4 linked regions of the Homo sapiens genome follow. The protein of the gene in region 1 purifies or fractionates together with the protein of each later gene. This does not show direct contact. Each region holds a gene or a part of one and is shown on either strand. Other genes may lie near its edges.

The links.
Region 2: the proteins of MUC20 (region 1) and SLC25A14 purify together in Homo sapiens (affinity purification with mass spectrometry; 2 studies listed by BioGRID and IntAct, with this or other methods). This does not show direct contact.
Region 3: the proteins of MUC20 (region 1) and RAD51B purify together in Homo sapiens (affinity purification with mass spectrometry; 2 studies listed by BioGRID and IntAct, with this or other methods). This does not show direct contact.
Region 4: the proteins of MUC20 (region 1) and GATB purify together in Homo sapiens (affinity purification with mass spectrometry; 2 studies listed by BioGRID and IntAct, with this or other methods). This does not show direct contact.

What each region holds. Positions count from the first base shown.
Region 1 is NC_000003.12:195,722,999-195,728,114, forward strand, and holds part of MUC20 (mucin-20 isoform a precursor), read left to right. Parts: intron 1-1,681; coding exon 1,682-3,574; intron 3,575-5,116. UniProt on the Homo sapiens protein: May regulate MET signaling cascade. Seems to decrease hepatocyte growth factor (HGF)-induced transient MAPK activation. Blocks GRB2 recruitment to MET thus suppressing the GRB2-RAS pathway. Inhibits HGF-induced proliferation of MMP1 and MMP9 expression.
Region 2 is NC_000023.11:130,363,919-130,367,418, forward strand, and holds part of SLC25A14 (brain mitochondrial carrier protein 1 isoform 1 precursor), read left to right. Parts: intron 1-709; coding exon 710-834; exon of another isoform or gene 835-1,622; coding exon 1,623-1,758; intron 1,759-3,500. UniProt on the Homo sapiens protein: Transports inorganic anions (sulfate, sulfite, thiosulfate and phosphate) and, to a lesser extent, a variety of dicarboxylates (e.g. malonate, malate and citramalate) and, even more so, aspartate and glutamate and tricarboxylates.
Region 3 is NC_000014.9:67,822,779-67,826,278, forward strand, and holds part of RAD51B (DNA repair protein RAD51 homolog 2), read left to right. Parts: intron 1-762; exon of another isoform or gene 763-763; 5' UTR 764-765; coding exon 766-849; intron 850-2,685; coding exon 2,686-2,799; intron 2,800-3,500. UniProt on the Homo sapiens protein: Involved in the homologous recombination repair (HRR) pathway of double-stranded DNA breaks arising during DNA replication or induced by DNA-damaging agents. May promote the assembly of presynaptic RAD51 nucleoprotein filaments.
Region 4 is NC_000004.12:151,702,008-151,705,507, reverse strand, and holds part of GATB (glutamyl-tRNA(Gln) amidotransferase subunit B, mitochondrial isoform 1 precursor), read left to right. Parts: intron 1-238; coding exon 239-323; intron 324-1,612; coding exon 1,613-1,657; intron 1,658-3,500. UniProt on the Homo sapiens protein: Allows the formation of correctly charged Gln-tRNA(Gln) through the transamidation of misacylated Glu-tRNA(Gln) in the mitochondria. The reaction takes place in the presence of glutamine and ATP through an activated gamma-phospho-Glu-tRNA(Gln).

The DNA.
Region 1 (5,116 bases):
GGAATATAAGCCCTTTCACCTTCTCCGCTGGTCCTCATCACGTTGGCAAGGCAGGTATTGTGACCCTGTTTTCTCAGGTGAGGACATGGAGGCTGGGAGGGGTCTAGAGACTGGCCTGGCTAGTAGGAGGCTGAGTCAGGATTTGAACCAGCAGATCATCTGACCCCGGAGCCAGTCGTGGGCGGCACAGCGGGAGCTGCAACCGAGGCTCTTGACTCCTGCGTCGTCATTCCCTGAGGTCCACAGGACAACCAGTTGGGGACCTGGGGCCCCATCCTGATGCCCTGGGGAGAGGTGCTAGGCCCCTTTTGGGTCTATGGGCTACTTTTGGGCCAGTGGAGCTGGGTAAAGACCATCTCAAACCCTGTGCCAGGGGAGGTCAGACTCCAAGAGCGCCACCTTTGGGCTTCCAGCTGTGTAGGCTGGACCAAGAAGGCTCAGAGAATTAGGGGGTTCGTATTTGATCCTTTTCCTTCCAAGACTGGGATTACCAGATAAAACACAGGGCATCCAGTTACATTTGAATTTCAGGTAACAATTTTTTTTAAGTGTAAGTATGTAGCCAATATTGCATGAGAAATACTCATGCTAAAAAGTTATTCGTCGTTTATCTGAAATGCAAGTTCAAATTTAACCGAGTACCCTGTATTTTTATTTGCTAAATCTAGAAACCCTCTCCAAGAGGCTCCTTGGCCCACTCACAGGGAGAGCCCGATCTCCCTCTAGACAGGGGAGGCCCCCTTTCTCAGGCCAGAAAAGATCTTGTAGTAAACTACTCAAGAGGCTGAGGCAGGAGGATCGCTTGAGCCCAGGAATTCAAGACCTGCCTGGGCAACAGAGCAAGACCCTGTCTCTAGGGAAGATATCCTACCGTAGCCTCCCTCGGGGACTCCCATTCCTCCCACCTCAGGGCCAGTCAAGGGAACAGGCCTCTGCTCTGGGCAGAAGTGCTGGCAGCCGCTCTCTGAAAAGCTAGGTGTTGCCTCAGGGTCTCCCGGTGTCCTGTGGAAAATGCCTGGCCACGGTTTCCATGGTTCCCAGGCTCCAACCCTGCAGTTCTCAGCCCTCATTCAGGAGGGGCCTCGGCAGGGTGGGGGGTGCCGTCTTTCCCTTGCTGGAGCCCCAAGGACTCTGCCGGCTCCCTCGCTTTGGCAGCAGCACTGCCCACCCTGTCTCTGGAGGTTCCCCCGCCTCAATCCACCCAGCTACCCCGAAAGGCACAATCATAGGCCTTTCTCGTCTTTTAAGGGTTTTTACTTCCATGGGGAACTATGTGTTGGATGAGAAAAGTATCCGGGGAAGGGGACAGAGGTTCAGAAAGCTCTGCGAGTCCTGGACGCTGGTCTGCCTTCTTGGCTCACCCTGGAAGGTGGACGCTGGCCCCACACATCCCCTCTTAAAGACGCAGGCCGATAGCCAGCAGATCCTGGGGCTTGCTGGCCCCAAGTGAGTTGTCAGGGTTTCAGAGGACACCAGTCATGGCAACCCCAGCTCCATGGCTGCCACACAGGCCTGGGCTTCCCAGGACTGCCTCCTTCTTGTTCGCTTATGTAGATGAAAAATGAGGTAACGGCACTCCCCTGCCCCACCCTCCTCCCAGAAGTGCCCAGGGTGTAAACGCAATAGCTTGTGTGAAGTCCACTGGAACCCAGGCTCACCAAGTCAGTCTTAACCAACACAGGCCCCAGCACCCGCAGAGCAGACACTGCGATGACAACGGACGACACAGAAGTGCCCGCTATGACTCTAGCACCGGGCCACGCCGCTCTGGAAACTCAAACGCTGAGCGCTGAGACCTCTTCTAGGGCCTCAACCCCAGCCGGCCCCATTCCAGAAGCAGAGACCAGGGGAGCCAAGAGAATTTCCCCTGCAAGAGAGACCAGGAGTTTCACAAAAACATCTCCCAACTTCATGGTGCTGATCGCCACCTCCGTGGAGACATCAGCCGCCAGTGGCAGCCCCGAGGGAGCTGGAATGACCACAGTTCAGACCATCACAGGCAGTGATCCCAGGGAAGCCATCTTTGACACCCTTTGCACCGATGACAGCTCTGAAGAGGCAAAGACACTCACAATGGACATATTGACATTGGCTCACACCTCCACAGAAGCTAAGGGCCTGTCCTCAGAGAGCAGCGCCTCTTCCGACAGCCCCCATCCAGTCATCACCCCGTCACGGGCCTCAGAGAGCAGCGCCTCTTCCGACGGCCCCCATCCAGTCATCACCCCGTCACGGGCCTCAGAGAGCAGCGCCTCTTCCGACGGCCCCCATCCAGTCATCACCCCGTCACGGGCCTCAGAGAGCAGCGCCTCTTCCGACGGCCCCCATCCAGTCATCACCCCGTCACGGGCCTCAGAGAGCAGCGCCTCTTCCGACGGCCCCCATCCAGTCATCACCCCGTCACGGGCCTCAGAGAGCAGCGCCTCTTCCGACGGCCCCCATCCAGTCATCACCCCGTCACGGGCCTCAGAGAGCAGCGCCTCTTCCGACGGCCCCCATCCAGTCATCACCCCGTCACGGGCCTCAGAGAGCAGCGCCTCTTCCGACGGCCCCCATCCAGTCATCACCCCGTCACGGGCCTCAGAGAGCAGCGCCTCTTCCGACGGCCCCCATCCAGTCATCACCCCGTCACGGGCCTCAGAGAGCAGCGCCTCTTCCGACGGCCTCCATCCAGTCATCACCCCGTCACGGGCCTCAGAGAGCAGCGCCTCTTCCGACGGCCCCCATCCAGTCATCACCCCGTCACGGGCCTCAGAGAGCAGCGCCTCTTCCGACGGCCCCCATCCAGTCATCACCCCCTCATGGTCCCCGGGATCTGACGTCACTCTCCTCGCTGAAGCCCTGGTGACTGTCACAAACATCGAGGTTATTAATTGCAGCATCACAGAAATAGAAACAACGACTTCCAGCATCCCTGGGGCCTCAGACACAGATCTCATCCCCACGGAAGGGGTGAAGGCCTCGTCCACCTCCGATCCACCAGCTCTGCCTGACTCCACTGAAGCAAAACCACACATCACTGAGGTCACAGCCTCTGCCGAGACCCTGTCCACAGCCGGCACCACAGAGTCAGCTGCACCTGATGCCACGGTTGGGACCCCACTCCCCACTAACAGCGCCACAGAAAGAGAAGTGACAGCACCCGGGGCCACGACCCTCAGTGGAGCTCTGGTCACAGTTAGCAGGAATCCCCTTGAAGAAACCTCAGCCCTCTCTGTTGAGACACCAAGTTACGTCAAAGTCTCAGGAGCAGCTCCGGTCTCCATAGAGGCTGGGTCAGCAGTGGGCAAAACAACTTCCTTTGCTGGGAGCTCTGCTTCCTCCTACAGCCCCTCGGAAGCCGCCCTCAAGAACTTCACCCCTTCAGAGACACCGACCATGGACATCGCAACCAAGGGGCCCTTCCCCACCAGCAGGGACCCTCTTCCTTCTGTCCCTCCGACTACAACCAACAGCAGCCGAGGGACGAACAGCACCTTAGCCAAGATCACAACCTCAGCGAAGACCACGATGAAGCCCCCAACAGCCACGCCCACGACTGCCCGGACGAGGCCGACCACAGACGTGAGTGCAGGTAAGTGGCTCCTGCTGGTGATCTTCGGGGATTTGGGATGCGGAGTTTCCAGGACGTCTCCGCACTTGAGGAGTGGAGAGGAGGGAAGGATCTGGAGCCTACTCAGAGCCTGCTCCTGATGTTGCCTCTTCGTGATCTTCTAGTGGTTCTTGGCGAAATCAGGAAAAGGCAGATGGAGGGTTGTGTATGGAAAGGGGTGGGGATGGAAGTCCGGAGAAATGGTTTGCGGTCTCGGCTCTGCCTGTAACAACCCGAGTGACCTTGGGCAAGTCCCTGTCCCTCTCTGGGCCTCAGTTTCTCCACCTGTATTTGGAGAGGGTTGGAATGGGCACTGAAGTCCTGTCCAGCTCTGACCTTCTGTGAAGTGCACTGTTGAGCAGCTCTGGAAGCTTCTATTCCAGCCATAGCCACACAGAGGAGCAGCAGGCAGGCATCAGGCCCAAGCTGCTGCTCTCTGACAGGCTGGGACCCCATGAAAGTGGGGCCTGCTGGATGCATTTCCTGGGATTTATGCCATAGATAGTGACTTAAAATAAATTAATACAGGCCTGGAGCGGTGGCTTATGCCTGTAATCCCAGCACTTTGGGAGGCAGAGGCCGGCGGATCACCTGAGGTCAGGAGTTCGAGACCAGGCTGACCAACATGGTGAAACCCCATCTCTACTAAAAATATGAAAATTAGCTGGGCGCAGTGGTGGGCGCCTGTAATCCCAGCTACTTGGGAGACTGAGGCAGGAGAATCACTTGAACCCGGGAGGTGGAGGTTACAGTGAGCTGAGACGGAGTGAAACTCCGTCTCAAAAAAAAAAGGTAAGATAAAATAAGCAAATACAGCGAAGGCTTGGGAGTTTAAAGCTACATCTCTGAGGCAACAGGGACTTCTCAGGGGAGAAGTTCATTGTCAGAGGCTGCTTGGTCAGTCCAGCTTCTGGTCAGCCTGTAGCCTCCACCTCCACTTCCTGTCACTCTGCCCTTGGGCCTCATCTCTGTGTATCCGCAGCTTGTTACCACCTTTCTGGGGGAGGTGGGAATACAAATATTAATCACAACCACTCAATACATAAAGATATTATTGAATATCTTTCATGTTATAGGCAGGGGTGATATAAACATGTTTCACACCCAGTAAGCACTGGCCCCAGCAGAACGTTCTCTCCGGTGCCAGGCAGTGTGCCACCAGCTTTGCATATGTTATCTGATGCCAGGCAGTGTGCCACCGGCTTTGTATATGTTATCTGATGCCAGGCAGTGTGCCACCGGCTTTGCATATGTTATCTGATGCCAGGCAGTGTACCACCAGCTTTGCATATGTTATCTGATGCCAGGCAGTGTACCACCGGCTTTGCATATGTTATCTGATGCCAGGCAGTGTGCCACCAGCTTTGCATATGTTATGATGCCAGGCAGTGTGCCACCAGCTTTGCATATGTTATCTCCTCTATTTAACCTTCAAAACAGCCTTAGGAGGTGGGTAACACGACCCCATCTGACAGGGTTAAAGATGGTAGCTAAACTGCTCTGGAAAGTGAAGGGGTGGCCTGC
Region 2 (3,500 bases), on another chromosome or scaffold:
GAGATAGAGTCTTACTGTATTGCCCAGGTTTGTCTAGAACTCCTCCTCAAGTGATCCTCCTGCCTCACCCTCTCAAAGTGCTGGGATTACAGGCATGAGCCCCTGTGCCTGGCCTTCTTTTACTTAAAAGAAAAATCGTTATAGCCATCCTAGTAGGTATGAAGTGGTATGTCCTTGTGGTTTTGATTTGCATTTCTCTAGTGACTAATGATGTTTAGCATCTTTTCGTGTGCTTATTGGCCATTTGTGTATCTTTTTTGAAGGAAATATCTTCAGGTCTTTTGGCCATTTTAAAATTGGATTGTTTGCCTTTTTTGTTGTAAGAGTTATTTATATATTCTTGACACTAGTCCCTTATCAGATATATGAGCGGCAAATGTTTTTTTCCTTTGTGTATGTTGACTCTTCACTTTCTGAGTGGTGTCTTTTGAGTCATAAAAGTTTTTAATTGTGATGAAGTCCAGTTGATCTTTTTTTTTTCTTTTGTCTTTTGTGCTTTGGGTGTCATATCAATTATTTTATTTTTAGTATAGCAAGTGAATTGGAAATTTGTATATGTTCCATTATTAGTCATTGATTTGAAAGAGTGACGTCTGTACTTCAGACTTGTATTTTTCTGTTACTTTTCAACTCCTGACCTATTTTGTTCACTCTAAGACATCACTCCCTTTGTATTTCCTTGGTGCCTAATGTCACTTGTGTTTCGTAGGGTGTGGTTCCAACTGCTCAGCGTGCTGCCATCGTTGTAGGAGTAGAGCTACCAGTCTATGATATTACTAAGAAGCATTTAATATTGTCAGGAATGATGGGCGATACAATTTTAACTCACTTCGTGTAAGTAGGATGGGATGTGCTCATTTTATTTCCAGCATTTTGAGCACAAAAAGCCTCTTTTACTGAAATCCTCAGGTGGAATTTGATAACTGGTACGTATGGCCTAAATTCCCTTGTCTCTCCTATTATCAGAACTTCAAGCCTTATGAACACTTTATACTTCACAGAAATGCCAGGTGCTATGGGGGCTTGGGTACTTGGGAACATTGTCTAATACAGCAGCCTATCAGAGGTCTATTTGATTTACATTTATCCATACATAGCTTCTATATCTAATAAGCACATCTATTATTTGCTTTGGTTAATTTTGTTTGAGAAAGCAAACTTTTCTCAGTGGGAATCAGAAAAAAAGGGGTAAATAAGGTCTGTGAAACTAAAGCACAGTTTTTTGGCTAAAGACTGTTACTGATCTCATTTTACATTTTCTTTGTCTTGCAACCTTTATGATAATTTTGTTACTCAAATGCATTTGGCATGTGATGCTGTGGTTTGAAAAATTTATGTAACTAATACATGGTGCATGATACTTTCTACTTAGGAATCTTGTTAGGTTTAGAAACTCTCCTTTAAAAAAAAGGCTGAGTTTCAGATTGAAAATTGAAGGGACAGCCTTTGAATGATGTCTCTTTAGAAAAATTTCCTGTCTCTTTAGATTGTAACGAAAGGCCAAGTGCCAGGTTTTATCTGATGGGTCTGAGTTATATTGTACAGTTTACGTTTGGCCTAATTTCTGTTTAAGTGGGCAGGGAGTGAAAGTGGGGTCGATCTACTTAAACTTTTCCTCTTAGTTCCAGCTTTACATGTGGTTTGGCTGGGGCTCTGGCCTCCAACCCGGTTGATGTGGTTCGAACTCGCATGATGAACCAGAGGGCAATCGTGGGACATGTGGATCTCTATAAGGGCACTGTTGATGGTATTTTAAAGGTAAGTACATTGTGGATTTGGGTTACAATTTGGCTTTCTTTGATGTCTTAGACCTTCCTTCAGTTCTTATTATTAGTTGCTACATACCATTTTGAAGATGAAAGAATCATATTTTTTTAGTAGCTTCTCAGTTATTCCCAGGTAGAAAAGCTGTCTCCTTAGCAATCTGCTAATTTGCAGTGGTACTTAATATAATGATTCCCATTTGAATGCTTTAAAATACAGGATGCTTTTATTAATAGTATCATGTAGAATTATTGATAGAAAAGACAATATATCCCCCATTTGCCTACTTCATACAACACAGAGACCCTGCAATAGAAAACTCAATACTTAAGGAAAAAAGCCTGTATTTTATTTCAGTTCACGGTTATGCTGTTGTTCACTTTGGCTTTGAAAGTTCCTGCTGTTGTGTTTGTGGGAACTGAATATTCTAAAAGTATTACATCATTACTGGTGATATTATTGCTACTGAAAACAAATTGAGGCTAAAATATGATGTTGCCATATGGTTTCTCTCCTGTTATCAGTTTTGTTTAACAACTATTACATATTAGACACCATTTTAGTAGTTAGAGAGAAATTACAGTTATTACAAAAGTACTATAGGTATACAAACGGATCATCAGTACAGCCTGATAAGTGATAAACTCAAGAGTTCTCAATTTGGAAGCATTGAGGTAGGCTCCCTGTAGATGGTGGCATCTTGAATAACAATAACTCATATCCACTGAGTGCTTTTTTGTGTGTCAGCAACTGTCCTTATGAGACTTATGTGTATTCGTTCATTGAATCCTCACCATTACTCCACGAGGTAGACACTGAAGCACTGAAAGATTAAGTAAGCTGCCTAAGGTTTCACAGCTACTAAGTGGGAGAACTGGAATTTAAACTCAGATCACTTGACCTCAAACTGACATTTACCTCTCCACTATGGTGCTTTCCTCATATTGGTGGCCAAGGGTTAGATTATAAAGGATACTGAATGCTATATTGAGGTGCTTGGACTTTTTTTTAACTTGTCAGGGAGCTGTTGAAAGTTTTTAATCAGATTAGCTTTGCATTTTAAATAGATTACTTTGGCTTTATGGAGACTGGATCTACCACAGTGGTTCCTCATCTTGGGTACACATTGGAATCACTTGGGAGAACTTTCGCAGCTCCCTCCTCTACCTTAGACCAATTAACTCAGAACCTGGGGAGTAAGGTCCAGGTGTCAATATTTTAAACTATATCAGGTGACTGCAATGTTCACCTAAGGTTGAAGACTACTAAGGGGATAAGCCTGGAGCCATGGTTCTTCAAAGTTTAACATGCATCAGAATTACCTGGAGGGCTTGTTAAACTGCAGTTCACTTGGAGCCATCTCCAGATTCTGATTTAGTAAGTATGGAGTGGGACCTGGAAATTTGCATTTTTAATAAATTCCCAGGCAATACTGATGTTGCTAGTCTGGAGACCACACTTGGAGAACCACTGACCTACAGATAGGGAAGCTGATTAGAAGGCTCTTGTAATCTGAGAAAGAGGGGATGAAGGCCTGAACTTGAGCATGATAATGGAGATATAGAAGGTGGGACAGAGTCAAGAAAGAATTAGTTGATAGAGTCAGCAGGATTTGATTGACTGGATGTGGAGGGGTGTGGGAGAAAAGAGGTGTCAAAGATAAGTTCTGGGTTTTTGGAGTTGGTGACCAGGTGGTGACATTCATTGACAGAGGCATCACAAGAGGAGCACGTCTT
Region 3 (3,500 bases), on another chromosome or scaffold:
ATAAAATCTCATTTGATTCAGAAGGTGTGCTCTGACTCCTAGAAAAAGGAAGAGTTAAATATGATTATGGACTTGCAGTAGAGTGTAATGGTTAAGAGGATAGGTTTCAGAATTAGACTGCCTGGATTCAAATTCTGGATCAGTTATTTATGTTTTCTGGTGACAATGGACTAGCTAACTTTTCCAGGCTTTAGTTTTCTCATATGTAAAAAAGGGGCCAATAATCTACTTTCCTTCTAGGGCTATTGAGAAGATTAAATGTGATAATTTAGATAAGTTTTGGAACAGTGCCTGGTATGTGGTAGGTGCTCCATAAATATACCTATTGCCGTTACAGTGCAATGTAAATTGTTACAGTGCAATAGACTTTCTAGTAGTTCTGTTTGGAAATATGCCTTGAAAGTTAATTACATTTCCAAATAAAATTTATACATGCATTGAACATTTTAAGATGCTCTACAAATGTGAAGTGGTACTATATTCATGTAGTAAATATCAATTAATTGTGTGAAATTATATTTGAGGTTGCCTTGTAGATTTTCTATGTGCCTGTTTGACGAACAATTGTCCCTCCTATTTAAAACATTTAAAAAGGTTCTATAGCATTCCTTTATCAGTAATATTTTTAACACAATATGTTTCATTTTGCATATGGAGAAACTTGAGGAATTTTTAATTTTGTTTTGGATAGCCTATTCACTATCACTTATGTTATATTCTGTTGTTTTTTTCATGGTTCTTCTTTTCTTTGCTGGATCTGGAGGCATGGGTAGCAAGAAACTAAAACGAGTGGGTTTATCACAAGAGCTGTGTGACCGTCTGAGTAGACATCAGATCCTTACCTGTCAGGTAAATTTTATTTAACATTTTTATTGATAAGTTTTATGCACAAGTTAACTTTATACCTTAATACCTCTTAAACTTGAAATATGAAAATGTAGGCTTACAAAAAAAAGATAAATGATGGTGCTTTTCCATAGGCTAATTGTAAATATCAAGCCTCCTTGGGTGCATTTCCAACTGCTATTTCATTTACCCAAATTTAGTATTTTTGCATTTTGAGGGGAAAGTGGTCACGGCATAAGGTGAAGTAACAGCTTTACTGTTTTATAGTTACATGAGAAATAGGACTCAAATGAGGAGATACTATTCAACATGTATCATTTCTCTTAAAAGCAAAAGAAATTAATAGACCATTTTCTTATTGATGGAGCATGAGAAATATATAGAGCGGATCTTGCATTTTTAAGCAAGGTGGTGAAGCAAATCCTCCTTAGCAGGGTAAATAAGATTTAAAGGTTTTGGTTGGTTGTTTTTGTTCTTTGTTGTTTTTGAGACTAGGTTCTCATGCTGCCCCAGCTGATCTTGAACTCCTGGCCTTAAGCAATCCTCCAGCCTCAACTCCCAGCTAGCTGGGATTACAGGCACACACCACTGTGCCTGGCTAGATTTAAGGTTTTATCTTAGGATTTTATCCTTTTTTTGTTTGTTTGTTTAGAGTCAGTGTCTCACTCTGTTGCCCAGGCTGGAGTACAGTGGTGCCATATCGGCTCACTGCAATCTCCTCCTCCCCGGTTCAAGTGATTCTCCTGCTTCCATCTCCTGAGTAGCTGGGATTACAGGCACATGCCACCACACCCAGCTAATTTTTGGATTTTTAGTAGAAACGGGGTTTCACCATGTTGGCCAGGCTAGTCTCAAATTCCTGATCTCAAGTGATCCGCCTCCCTCAGCCTCCCAAAGTGCTAGCATTACAGACATGAGCCACCGTGCCTGGCCTGATTTTATCTTTAATAAGACATTTTCACAGAGCATTCTGCAATTTTTTTTTTGAATTGCTTTCTGTGTTAAAGATAACATCGGTTCCTTTGTTATACATTTAATTATTTGCATATTTATACTCGGAAACATTCTTAAAAGTATGAAATTTGTTATTTCATCCTATAGTCAGTTTCATTCTTTTTCAACTACGAAATATTATCTCTGAGTGAACTTCTAGCTTAGAAAGAAACTCTTTCGGCCGGGCACGGTGGCTCACACCTGTAATCCCAGCACTTTGGGAGGCCGAGGTGGGCAGATCATGAGGTCAGGAGTTCGAGACTAGCCTGGCCAATATGGTGAACTCTTGTCTCTACTAAAAATAAAAAAAATTAGCCAGGCATGGTAGTGAGTGCCTGTAGTCCCAGCTACTCAGGAGTCTCAGGCAGAAGAATCGCTTGAACCCAGGAGGTGGAGGTTGCAGTGAGCCGAGATCGTGCCACTGCACTCCAGCCTGGGCGACAGAGCAAAACTCTTGTCTCAAAAAAAAAAAAAAAAAAAAAAAAAAAAAGGAAAGAAACTCTTTCAACCTGACACTTTCTGGGCATATATTTATACCCAAATTCTTTTTGGCACAAGTGTAGCGCTCATACGCACCTGGATTGGATGCTGGTGCTATGTGATATTATTTGGTGTATCCTCTGGTATATGCCAACTAAACAGGATAATTAGAAGATAAGTTTGTGTCATTACAACTTTTAGTTAAGGCATATTTATGGGGAAAATACTACAATGAATGTATAAATCTTTGATCTGCGATAAATTATACTTTTGTCTACATAAGCAGTATCAATTGAAGGTTTCCTTTTAACTCTAGTATCTTTGTTACACATATATGTTTAAAATACTCTCTTTATGTTTCTTTAGGACTTTTTATGTCTTTCCCCACTGGAGCTTATGAAGGTGACTGGTCTGAGTTATCGAGGTGTCCATGAACTTCTATGTATGGTCAGCAGGGCCTGTGCCCCAAAGATGCAAACGGTATATTTATATTTTATTATGATTTGATTATGAATGATTCCTCATCTCATTAAACATGTTTTTTTAGGGATGAGGCACATGCAGAAATAGAGATGAGTACCTCAAAAATACTGAGTTTTCTACTATAGAAGTTAGTTCTCTAAGGAAAATACATGTGAAAATTTTTTTTTTCTTTTTTGAGACGCTCTGTTGCCCAGGCTGGAGGGCAGTTGCACGATCTCGGCTCACTGTAGCCTCTGCCTCCTGGGTTCAAGCGATTCTCCTGCCTCAGCCTCCTGAGTAGCTGGGATTACAGGCACGGTGCTACCAAGCCAACTTATTTTTATATTATTAGTAGAGATGGGATTTCACCTTATTGGCCAGGCTGGTCTCAAACTTCTGACCTCAAGTGATCTGCTTGCGTCGACCTCCCAAAGTCCTGGGATTACAGGCGTGAGCCACCGTGCCTAGCCTATGTGTGAAAAATTTATGTAGTTTATAAACTCATGGGAGACAATTTCTAAATATGGGAATTAGGGAGCAACAGAAAGTTTTTATTTTTTTTTCTATAGCCAATAGCAGTAGTTCAAAAGGTCATCTTTCTCTGATTGATTAGGTAGTATTTGATGGCCTCATAGTTAAATTATAATCTTAATTTTAGAATGCCCCTTTCTTTGATATACTGACCTTTACCATCATCACTTGCTCTAGATCATAAAGTA
Region 4 (3,500 bases), on another chromosome or scaffold:
TGAACCTGAATTGTCTCAACACGGAGTGAGCCTGCCTTCCTAAGGCCCTTTCCAACACCAATATTCTACGATGGCAGTGAGAAGGAAATATAGTGTGTAAGGGAAGGATTATTATAAACAATCTTCTTGATTTTTTTTTTTTTTAACTTAGAGATTGAGAAAGGTTGTTTCTAATTATTGCTTGACTGGATGAAAGGTATAATCAAAATATGATGCTAAATTAGTGTGTTTTTCCTAGACTATGAAATTCAGAGGCAAATCAATGAACTTGAGAATGGAGGTGAAATTCTGAACGAAACACGCTCATTTCATCACAAGCTGGGGTGAGTTCGCATTGCTGAGCGTCCTGACCACAGCCGGGGGTGGTGCGAGAGGGCTGGGCTCAGCCACTGACCAGCCATGTGACCTTGAAGGAGGCACGTAGCGTCTCCACTTTTAGGTTTCCTCATTAGTACAATTAGAAAAGTACTGTACCCTTCATGCCTGTAATCCCAGCACTTTGGGAGGCAATGGGCAGATCACGAGGTCGGGAGATCGAGACCATCCTGGCTAACATGGTGAAATCCTGTCTCTACTAAAAAAATACAAAAAATTAGCCGGGCATGGTGATGGGTGCCTGTAGTCCCAGCTATTTGGGAGGCTGAGGCAGGAGAATGGCATGAACCCGGGAGGCGGCGCTTGCAGTGAGCTGAGATGTTGCCACCGCACTCCAGCCTGGGCGACAGAGCGAGACTCCTCTCAAAAACAAAAAAGAAGGCCAGGCGCCGTGGCTCACGCCTGTAATCCCAGCACTTTGGGAGGCCGAGGCGGGCGGATCACGAGGTCAGGAGATCGAGACCATCCTGGCTAACATGGTGAAACCCCGTCTCTACTAAAAATACAAAAAATTAGCCAGGTGTGGTGGCGGGCGCCTGTAGTGCCAGCTACTCGGGAGGCTGAGGCAGGAGAATGGCGTAAACCCAGGAGGCGGAGCTTGCAGTGAGCCGAGATAGTGCCACTGCACTCCAGCCTGGGCGACAGAGCAAGACTCCGTCTCAAAGAAAAAAAAAAAAGAAAAGTACTGTACCCTATAGGGATATAATATACCCTAGGGCTGCCAGGAGGCTTGAAGTGACCCAGACTGTGCCCAAGGGCTTCGTTTTAGGCCCTTTCCTTCTCTGCTTCCAGCTTACCTGCCTTGTGGCAAGAATTTTTACTTCCTTAATCTATCAGATCTTTCCCAGCTGAAGCTAGAGGCGGAACAGAGTGAAGACCTGGTTGTAGAGATGCCTTATTTTTGTTTAGATAACTTGGGCCTTAATTTTCTCACTCAGAATTTTGAGCATTGTATACTTAAAGCAGAATACTGAAAAAAGCTCAAAAGCCGAGTTTGAGCTGGCTGAAAGATGGCTACATTGAAGTCATTTCCTTTAAAAAAAAAAAAAAAAGATCATTCTGTACATTTCGCTTTCTTTATGATTGTTTTTTGAATGTATTCATTTAAGGTTTCCCCATGGAAGTCCACAGAGTTTGATTTTGCCTGTGCCCCTTATTGGTAGGGGAGCCCTTCCCCACATATAGGCTGGCCAGTGCTGCTTTCAATGTTTAATGTTTTCTTATTTAACTATTGCAGGTGCACCATGTCAATGAGAGACAAAGAAGGAAAACAGGACTACAGGTGGTTACTCCTTATGGCAAAATACCGCTATATATCGGGGGCTGGGGCGTATTTCAAGTTCATTTAAAGTTCAACATAATGATCCTGAACAATTTTTAGAAACCACTTTTTGTCATTGTTGTAACATGATGGGACATCTAGACTTCCTCTTTGATATGCATACCGAGAGAAGTACTAGTTTCTTGATTTGGTAGCCTCAGATCTGGTGCCTTGTTTGACTGATTCAGCTTTTGGAAGAACTTGTTCATCCACTGCTGTGTCAAAGTTGTCATAGTTGAGCTAGGAGGATGGCTGTAGAGGTTGGGGCCTAGGCTGTTCTTATTCTAATGTTCAGTAACTGATTCAGTAATACGCTGAATGAAGCTCCTTGAGAAGAAATGAGAAAAGAGATGTTGATAGCGTATGTTGATGGTAGTTCCCTTGAACCTCATATGATGCTATTTCATGATAAATTAAGTTGAACTACTTAATATGAGACCCACAAATAAAGCAAATGCTAAGAACAGGCATAAGATAATTGAAACTTTTATTTTTTTCTCATTGAGTTTAGCAGGTTGAAGTTTTAAGCAACAAAGTTGTGAGATCGGCCACCTTTCCTTTGTGAAGGGCAGAAAGATGCAAATGTAGCTATTATCAATGAGGATCAAAATTTGCATGTTTATGTGGGAAAGAAGAAACTCATAAACGCTTAGCATGAACCTCACCCCAAGAACTCCCATTGTCTGTCTGCTAGAGTCAAAATTATTTTAATTAACCGTGAACTTCCCGGGTGAGTCTGTTCTCCCAGGGGCCCACTTTATTCCTGAGTGTTGCTCCCTCCCCTGTTGGTGCGCCTTCCCCTGAGTGTGGAGTCCGGCTTTCCATCCGCCCGTGGCTTCAGCATGATGCCTCAAATGATAGTGAGCTGCAGGAAGCTTCCCCTGGGTTTCCTCTTGCCCTCAGAAGCCAGACTAACTCACAGAAGAGATCTGGCAGTGAGCCGATGGGTAGCGTGTGCTTCGAATCCATTCCCTCCAAACCACCACTTCTTCTGAATACCCTGCTTTTTCTACATAAGCCCTTTGACAAAAATGGGCAGAGAGTAACCATTAGTGCTGGACGAGAACAGAGGGAGGGACATCTTGTTTCATAAGATTACATGCAATGGTGCAGCTTTGACACTTAAAAAAATTAATTCCCTTCATTTTTTAGAGCAGTTTTAGCTTTACAATAAAATTGAATGGAACGTCCAGAGTTCTCACATACTCCCGCTCCCCACTCTCCCCCCAGAGTCTCCTGTTAATGTGCCACAGTAATGCAAGATGCTCATTTGTTACAATGATGAAACCAATCACACTTCCTTATTGGCTAGAGTCCATGGTTTACACTAGGGTTCCTTGTTTGTGTGGTACATTGCGTGGGTTTTGACATATGCACAATGACATGCATCCACCATCGTGTCACACTGAGAAGTTCCACTGCATGCCCTGTGCTCCACCTCTTCATCCCTCCCTCCCTCTTCTCCAGCTGTCACATTTTGTTTAGGCAAAATCTATTCATTTCTTCTATTTCTCAAGGGTAAATTTTTTTCCTTTCATTTTTTATTTATGTAAATGCTGCTAAAAATAGTAGAAATGTTGAAATGGGGGGAAAGTCATCTTTCCTTCTAATAAGCAAATTGCTCTCATTTGGTCCTGTTTTTTCCAGCCTGTGTCTTTATGAAGACATAGTCCTGCATACATATGGATGTTTCTGTCAACAGTGGATTACGTATGCTACAGGAGTCCCATAAGATTGTCATATGGCATTTTTACCGTCCCTTTCTTGTTCAGACATGCTTAGATACACCAATGCCATTGTGTTA